2 linked regions of the Homo sapiens genome follow. The protein of the gene in region 2 purifies or fractionates together with the protein of the main gene of each other region. This does not show direct contact. Each region holds a gene or a part of one and is shown on either strand. Other genes may lie near its edges. The genes, in order: TUBGCP6 and AHCTF1.

The links.
Region 1: the proteins of AHCTF1 (region 2) and TUBGCP6 purify together in Homo sapiens (affinity purification with western blotting, with the first as the bait; one study listed by BioGRID). This does not show direct contact.

The regions. Positions count from the first base shown.
Region 1 is NC_000022.11:50,217,065-50,221,203, forward strand, and holds the end of TUBGCP6 (gamma-tubulin complex component 6), read right to left. Parts: coding exon 3,187-4,139; exon of another isoform or gene 3,128-3,186; intron 2,952-3,127; coding exon 2,893-2,951; intron 2,728-2,892; coding exon 2,580-2,727; intron 2,393-2,579; coding exon 2,224-2,392; intron 2,146-2,223; coding exon 2,004-2,145; intron 1,834-2,003; coding exon 1,639-1,833; intron 1,557-1,638; coding exon 1,424-1,556; intron 1,339-1,423; coding exon 1,125-1,338; intron 1,054-1,124; coding exon 854-1,053; intron 764-853; coding exon 672-763; 3' UTR 630-671; downstream 1-629. UniProt on the Homo sapiens protein: Component of the gamma-tubulin ring complex (gTuRC) which mediates microtubule nucleation.
Region 2 is NC_000001.11:246,848,406-246,852,214, forward strand, and holds part of AHCTF1 (protein ELYS), read right to left. Parts: intron 3,634-3,809; coding exon of another isoform or gene 3,580-3,633; exon of another isoform or gene 3,500-3,579; intron 3,038-3,499; coding exon 1,210-3,037; intron 1-1,209. UniProt on the Homo sapiens protein: Required for the assembly of a functional nuclear pore complex (NPC) on the surface of chromosomes as nuclei form at the end of mitosis. May initiate NPC assembly by binding to chromatin and recruiting the Nup107-160 subcomplex of the NPC.

The sequences.
Region 1 (4,139 bases), on a different chromosome or scaffold from region 2:
CGTGCTGAGGAACTACATCGCGCAGAATGCCATCGAGGCTGCCGAGCGCGGGGACTTCTCAGAGGCAAGCACACGCCTGTCCCTGTGGTCCCTGGGAGGGGGGTCGGCCCCAGACCCCTCTCACCCTCCTGATCCTCCAGGTGCGGCGGGTGCTGAAACTACTGGAGACCCCTTACCACTGCGAGGCGGGGGCCGCCACAGACGCCGAGGCCACGGAAGCCGACGGGGCGGACGGCAGGCAGCGCTCCTACAGCAGTAAGCCCCCGCTCTGGGCAGCAGAACTGTGCGTGACATGATCTTCGTAACGGCCTCGGCACGCTCCACACCCCTGGAGTCTCCCGAGGCCCCCATGTGCTGCTGAGTGGCCAAGATGATGCCAGGCTGCCCTATACACTGGGGGATTCTGCCCTGGCCCATGCACACCCGTCTTTCCATGATGGCAGAGACATCCAGTCAGGACCTGACCCGTCTCTGTCTGAGGCCGGCTCAGCAGTGCAGCCTGGTCCCTGGGGGCTGGACCCAGGCTCCTAAATAAACCAGCAACTCCCTCGAGTCTGTCTCTGTGGTCATTGTTCCCCCACCCTGCCCTGTCCTCAGCCCCCACCCAGGAGAGAGAGCTGCAGACAGGGTCCGAGAACACCTTTATTGTGCACGTCCCCCGCAGAGCAGCCTCAGGCGTCCTGGTAGTAGTTGTTGAAGTTGATGCGCAGCAGAAAGTCCTCCAGGTGGGGCTGGTAGCCGCGGTTCACCAGCTTGGTCACCACTGGGGACCAGCGAGCAGCTCAGGCTTTTGCCCACAGTGTGAGCCCCGCCCTGGCCCCCCCGCAGCCCTCCCAGCCAGGGTGGGCCTCACCTTTGAAGAGAAAGTGGGAGTAGTACTTGAAGGTGTTGTAGGACTGCTGCATGAGTGCAAAGTTGGGGTGCTCTGCACCCCGCGGGCCCCCAGGGGGCCCCCAGGCCTGGGAGATGAGCTGGCTGCGGAACTTGAGCACGAGGCTGAAGATGCTGTGGATGACGTTCATGACGGGCGCCGCCTTCTCCGTGAGCAGGCCCCTGGGGGGAAGCAGTGCTGCTGGGTGGGCTGAGCCGTGACCACAGGGACGCAGCCGCTGCCCAGGCCTCACCTGAAGACGGCCTTGTGCAGGTACTCTGCGTGCGCACGCTGGATCTCCTCCAGGTCGCCCACGGTGGCCAACCTGGCCCTGAACTCGCACCAGGTGACGTGCAGGATCTGGTTGGCGATGTAGCCCTGGATGACCTTCACGAAATGCTGCATCTCGTGCTTGAACAGCTGCAGCTGACGGAACTGCACAGAGCCGGCCATGTGGCTCAGCAGGGCTGGCGGAGGGCAGAAGGCAGAGGGCAGAGGTGAGCGCAGCCTCCAGCCAGGGGTGCGGGGCGCCGGGCTCCAGCGGGGCCTCACCTGTGCGCTTGAGGTGGAAGCAGACGTCCTTGAGCGCCCACATCATGAGCTTCAGCTGCAGCAGGAAGGAGAAGACGCCGCTGTACTTGCTCACGCAGCCCTCGGTGATGACAATGTTGAGAGGCCAGTCCACCTGCCAGGAGGCGTGGCTCAGCAGGCATCCCACAGGCAGGCAGGCCCCTGTCCCATCCCCCGCGGCCAGGGCTGCTGCTGACCTTGTACCTGAGCTCCAGGCAGCTCAGCACATCCGGGGCGTTGGGGGCAAACACCTCGGGCAGGTACTTGAGAGCGAGGGAGAGGTTGGAGGCGTGCGGGGTGTCCCCATGCAGGCTGCACTGCAGGGCCTTGCTCAGCACAGAGTTCAGCACCAGCGGGTTGAGCAGCTCTCCGGGCGTTTGCCCAGCTCCAAGCTAGGCAGAAAAGGGACCACCGTCCCCAGGAGTCCCAAGCACATGCCTGGCACTCGCCGGCACCCCATGGGGCTGTGCCAGAGCAGCAGGGGGCTGTGGGCGTGCAGCCAGTCTCTCTTTTCCCACGGCCTCCCCTCTACCACTGGCCCCACCCCGTGTCCGGAGGCCACCTTCTCAAAGAGCAGGTCGCTGAGGGACTGGGCGAACTCGCCGTCCTCCATCAGCAGGAAGTGCCGCAGTGCCTCATAGTGCGCCTCCAGGTGCAGCTCCACGAAGAAGTAGTCGACAGCGGCCTTGTTCACCAAGGAGATGCTGGCAGGAGGGAGCTGGAGTCAGGGCGGGCCAGGACGGGCTGGGTGGGCAGACTGGCGCAGGGGCAGGGGCACTCACTGGGCGGCCAGCGGTGCCGTGATGGAGCGCTTCATGAGCACGGGCAGCGTCAGCAACTCGCTCAGCTGCACAGCAGTCTCATCAGCGGCAGACTGGACCTGGGGGTCCACGGGGAAGGCGAAGGCCCGGGGAAGCACGGGGCGCAAAAGATGAGCAATGGGCGGCTCGGCTGCGGGAGATGGAGCACGCACGTGCTGGGAACCGGCCAGCCCAGGGCTCCGCCCCCATCCACAGGAGATGGAGCACGTGCTGGGAACTGGCTAGCCCAGGGCTCCGCCCCAACCCACAGGAGGTGGAGCACGTGCTGGGAACCAGCCAGCCCAGGGCTCCCTGCCAACAGCAACTGCTGCACTCACACATGGACTCGTAACTGTCCGGGTACCGCTCCAAGTGGTACTGCCCTGCCAGGCCTGCCAGGTAGGCCTGCTCCCCACCCTGAGCCTCCGCCGCCGATGCCTCCGCCTCCTCACCACGGCCTGGGCTGCTCTGGGCAGCTGTGTCTTCCTAACAAAACACCAGCCTCAGAACCACCTCCCCACTGCACGCTGTCCCCACAACCAGCTTGTGCCAAAAAAAGGAAAATCGCATGTGGGACCCACCCGCGTGACAACCTAGAGGGACAGAGCCCTCCCTGCCTGCTGTGGGACCCCCAGGCTGCATCCACCTAACCTGTGAGTTGAGAGGCCAATTTGGAGAGAGGTCCTCAGTGTCCCCGCTCCTCCCAGGGCCTGTGTGGACACAAGTGGACACGAGGGCATCAGGGCCGAGTGCCTGTGGCGGGTACAGAGCCGAGCCGGCCCTGGCTCAAGCAGCCCCTCCCATGTCCCCCACAGCAGCCCAGGTCCTGGCTGACAAGGAGGCCTGAGGGGAACTTCACATGCCACCAACCCCACTGCCCGCCTACCTCCCAGGCTCTGTGCGTCCCACAGTCCCACTCCTGACCACCAGCCACCCTACTCTGACCTAGTTCTTCAGAGACACTGTCTCCCGGGGTGTTGGGCCACCATGGTTGGGTGGGAGCCACGTCTGACACGTTCTCCCCCACGCTGATGCTCCCCTCCCCGCAGCCCGAGCTGGGGGAGGACAGAGATGGCCCCACTTCTACAGGCAGCCGTGGCCCACAGTCCAGCACAGTGCTCTGTGCTCCCAGGCTGAGCGCTGACTGGGACGTGTGGCCAGGGGGGCTCTGTTGGGGCCTGGGTGTGTTGGGCTCAGCTTCTGGTGAGAGAGCCCCCAGCACCATGTGGGGCGGAGGGATGGGTACATGGGTGTTCCACCGTGGCCGGGTGGAAACCACATCCGACACAGGCTCCCCCAAGCTGATGCTGGCGTCGGACACGTGTCCATGGGTGTTGCACCGTGACCGGATGGGAGCCACGTCCGATACGTTCTCCCCAACCCTGATGCTGGTGTCAGACACATGTCCGTGGGTGTTCCACCGTGGCCGGGTGGGAGCCATGTCTGACACAGACTCCCCCAAGCTGATGCTGGCATCAGACACGTGTCCATGGGTGTTCCACCGTGGCCGGGCGGGAGCCATGTCTGACACAGACTCCCCCAAGCTGATGCTGGCATCGGACACGTGTCCATGGGTGTTCCACCGTGGCCGGGTGGGAGCCACGTCCGACACGTTCTCCCCAACCCTGATGCTGGCGTTGGACACGTGCCCGTGGGTATTCCACCGTGGCCTGGTGGGAGCCACATCTGACACATTCTCCCCGACCCTGATGCTGGCGTTGGACACATGTCCATGGATGTTCCACCGTGGCCGAGTGGGAGCCACATCTGACACAGACTCCCCTAAGCTGATGCTGGCATTGGATACGTGTCCGTGGGTGTTCCACCGTGGCTGGGTGGGAGCCACATCTGACACATTCTCCCCGACCCTGATGCTGGCGTCAGACACGTGCCCGTGG
Region 2 (3,809 bases):
TTAGCCAGGATGGTCTCGATCTCCTGATCTCGTGATCCACCCGCCTTGGCCTCCCAAAGTGCTGGGATTACAGGCGTGAGCCACCGTGACCGGCCAAGTCATCTACTTTATTTATAAGGTCCTGAACTGCTTTGCTGAAATTCAAATATTAAACTGTAACTTAAATAGTCAACTACATGGCTGGGTGTGGTGGCTCACGCCTGTAATCCCAACACTTTGGGAGGCTGGGGCGGGTGGATCACTTGAGGTCAGGAGTTCAAGATCAGCCTGGCCAACATGGCGAAATGCTGTCTCTACAAATACAAAAAATTAGCCAGGCCTGTAATCCCAGCTACTAGGGAGGCTGAGGTAGGAGAATCCCTTGAACCCAGGGGGCACATGTTGCAGTGAGCCGAGATCATGCCATTGTGCTCCAGCCTGGGCGACAGAGTGAGACTCTACCTCAAACAAACAACACAAACCCCCTACATTTTGTTTACCTAACCATTAACACTTTTACAGAGAGTTACTCTGATGGGATCTATTCAGCCACACCAGTGTCTTAACTTTTTAGACATGTTTAAAGCACCCCCTATTAAAATTTTATTACTGCAGATATATTGTATATCTGTTTGTATTCTTAATGCATATATGTGCTCCCTTTGGGGAGAGATCACCCCTGTTGAGAAGCTCTGACCTACACCAACCAAATACAGTCCTTAGCTCGTGACAATGAAGGATGGCCTCACTGAAGATGAGGGCATGTAGATGCGCCAGTTTGTGGGCAATAGTGAATATGGATTGAAATAATTTCTGTATCTTAGTAAAAAGCTACTGGTGTTTCCCTTCAAAACAATTTCGGGTTGTGGATATCACTGGGGTGTGAGCCAAATGCAGCAGTACATGGGAGATTAAAAATATTGACTATTTTGGAAGAAACTTAATTAAAAGTCACTTATAATTTATAAAACTCACAGAAGAGAAATTACACTATTCTAAAAAATAAATCTGTTACGTGAGTTACAGGATTTAAGTCATGTTAACCATACTGAATAACTGAACTCAAACTTTGAAACATGAAACCTTTAAACTTTACTACTAAAAGATCAATTTTGGTTTGAGGGGGGAAGGGGAAAAATTCCCTATAAAACCATTTTTAGGACAAATAACCAAATTTTAAGCTGAAGAGTGACTGAGATGAAAAACTGTTTTGCAGAGAAAGAAAAGTACCTTTTGCTTTCCTTGGAACTTCTGACGCTGGAGAAAATAAAGGCTCATTGTTTGGTTCAGAAAGGTCCGGCAACAAGATGGCCTTGCTAGACCGAGTCCTGCTGCTGCGGGATGATTTAGTGAAGGAAGCTGTGGCGAGCAATCTTTCTTCCTGCTCATTTGTTTCTTTATGTGTCATTTCATCTGTGCGTTCTTCTGATACTGAGTGCAATGAACGTTTTTGGCTTTGACTTTCAGTCTTTTTTGTAAGTTTTTTCTTAGAGCTCATCACCATCGAAAGTTCCTCGTTTGGCACTAAAATGGATTTTCCTAAAGCTGGTTTTCCAACATCAACATTTTCACTTTTAGCTGGGGTATTTCTTGTAGATCTCCTTCTAATGCTGGGAGCTTCTTTCTTCTTGGGGCTTCTCTCTTCCTTAACAGCCTTAGATCCTACATCTTCAGATGGATTGATTTTTCTTGGTCTACCACGTTTTCTAGGTATGGCAGACATATCAAATTCTGCTTGAACAGTCAACTGAGATGACTCAAGGTTGGAGTCTTCTCTCACATCTGATGGACTAACTTCTCTCCCTCTGACCCTTCTAACATGTTTAATACGCAGCTGCTTGTCACTGGATTTATCATCTTGCTTATTTCCTGTATTTTCAGAAGCATCTAAATTAGTACTTCTCAATTTTCTGATCATTCTGCTAGGACTTGTTACCGTACTAACTTTTAGATCATTTATAATTTCAACACTTTCCTGATTTTCTACAGATCTTTTAATTCTTCTAGGAGTCCTTTTTGTAACAGATGAAACCTTAACTTCTTTTTTAGTAGTTTCTTCAACTGCTGGTTCCAACAGCTGAGATGATTTTAATCTTTTTGATTCCCTACCTGTAGTGATCTGTAATTCTTGTTCCACAGAACTGGTGTTTTCTAGTATGTCCTGATTAACTTCTTTCTTTCTCCTTCCTCTCCTAGGCGTAACAGAATTTTGAGGTATTTGCTGGTTCTGAGATAGTCCTCTGACATCAGAATAGATGTTTTCAGAAGCTTCAGAAATTTCTTTTGCCTTCCTAGTTTTCTTCCTGACTGACTGCCCTGGCATCTTAGGAGTAGCAACATCTGCTGATGCTTCCTGTTGTGCTGATTTGACATTCACGTTTTGGATACGTTGACCTCTCGTACGAGTTTTGGAGGAAACCACGTCATCAACCTGGCTGACATTCATAGTCATTGTGCTTGTTTCCTGAGCAGTCTTAAATGCAGATTTGACCAATTTAGTGGGACACATTATGTTTTGGCTCACTAAAGGTATTGTTTCATGAATGGACTGTTCCATTGTATCTGAAGTAATTTCTTTACTTCTTGTGTCTTTAATTACATCTAGTAAATTTTCTGCAATTGCTACTTTAATAGGTTCAGGCACATATGGTAAAGTGTCTACTTTTTGGGACTTTTGGTCACTAGTTACGGCAGATGGCAAATTTGCAATTTGTCCATGATTATCATTTTCCCCACTGCATACAAGTTTTTCTTCAGTTGCTGTGTTAGCTGCTTTAGGTAACACATCAGATGATGCAAAATCACCTGGCTCAACTTCTCCTTCTTCACCTTCCAATATCAAGGTAAAGTTGCTTTGAGCCACAAAAAGTTCCCCATCTACTTCAGCAATGTCACATTCAGCAGTGTCTTTGTTATCAGCTAAGTCACAAAACTGTTGGTCAATAGTATCAAAATTGTACTGAAGCTTAAGTGTTCCAGAGGGATATAACTCATTAAATGAAAGATTCCTAGCCTCTTCTCCTGAATCTTGAGCTTCAAGCTTTTCTTGTTCAATCACCTAAATGAATTAAAGATAAGAGACTGGTTAAAGAATTTTAATACATGTTTTAACTTGAAGCACACAGGTTTTTGATGACCCTTGGCTGTGTGCCTTTTAAAACATAAATTATATTTAATATGGCATATACTTATGGGTTTACTTTACAAAATTATCCCTTTAAGCAATCAGACTTTCTCATTCAGTCAAAATAACTACATTTTGAGATTATGACTGAAATTTAACTAGAAATTCTACATTTCCCTAGCTAAAAAGACAGTCAACAAAAGCTTGAAAATTATGATGCTAACAGTTCTGAAAACATTTAAGGACTTATTCTATTCTCACCCAAGAAAAAAAATTAACCGGAAAAAACAGAAACAACCCCCAAACTGTGTTTTAATGGTATTCCCCAAATTACCTAACTATCCACACTTTTCTAAATAGCACGATCCCCGTAAGGTTGAAGAACAATTCACCTACATAAGCTCCCTTGGGCTAGACTCAATCCTCTTCCCTTTGCTGGGGCTGCATAAACCATGAAATTCCTAAGGCTTTCAAGTTCAGTACCTCTCCTGCAAGGGTTTGGTGGAAGAAGGAATGGTCCTTGCAATTACCTTTTGGTAAGGGAAGGGGAGAAAAAGGAGGAGGTAGAAAGTAACAGAGAGATCTCCTGACCAAGAAGGTAGAACATTACCACCCACCTAGACAATGACATTTTCCCACTCCCCAAACATTCAGTGAGATGACAGATTGGAAATAACCTAGAAATTAGGATTCCCACTTACACCAT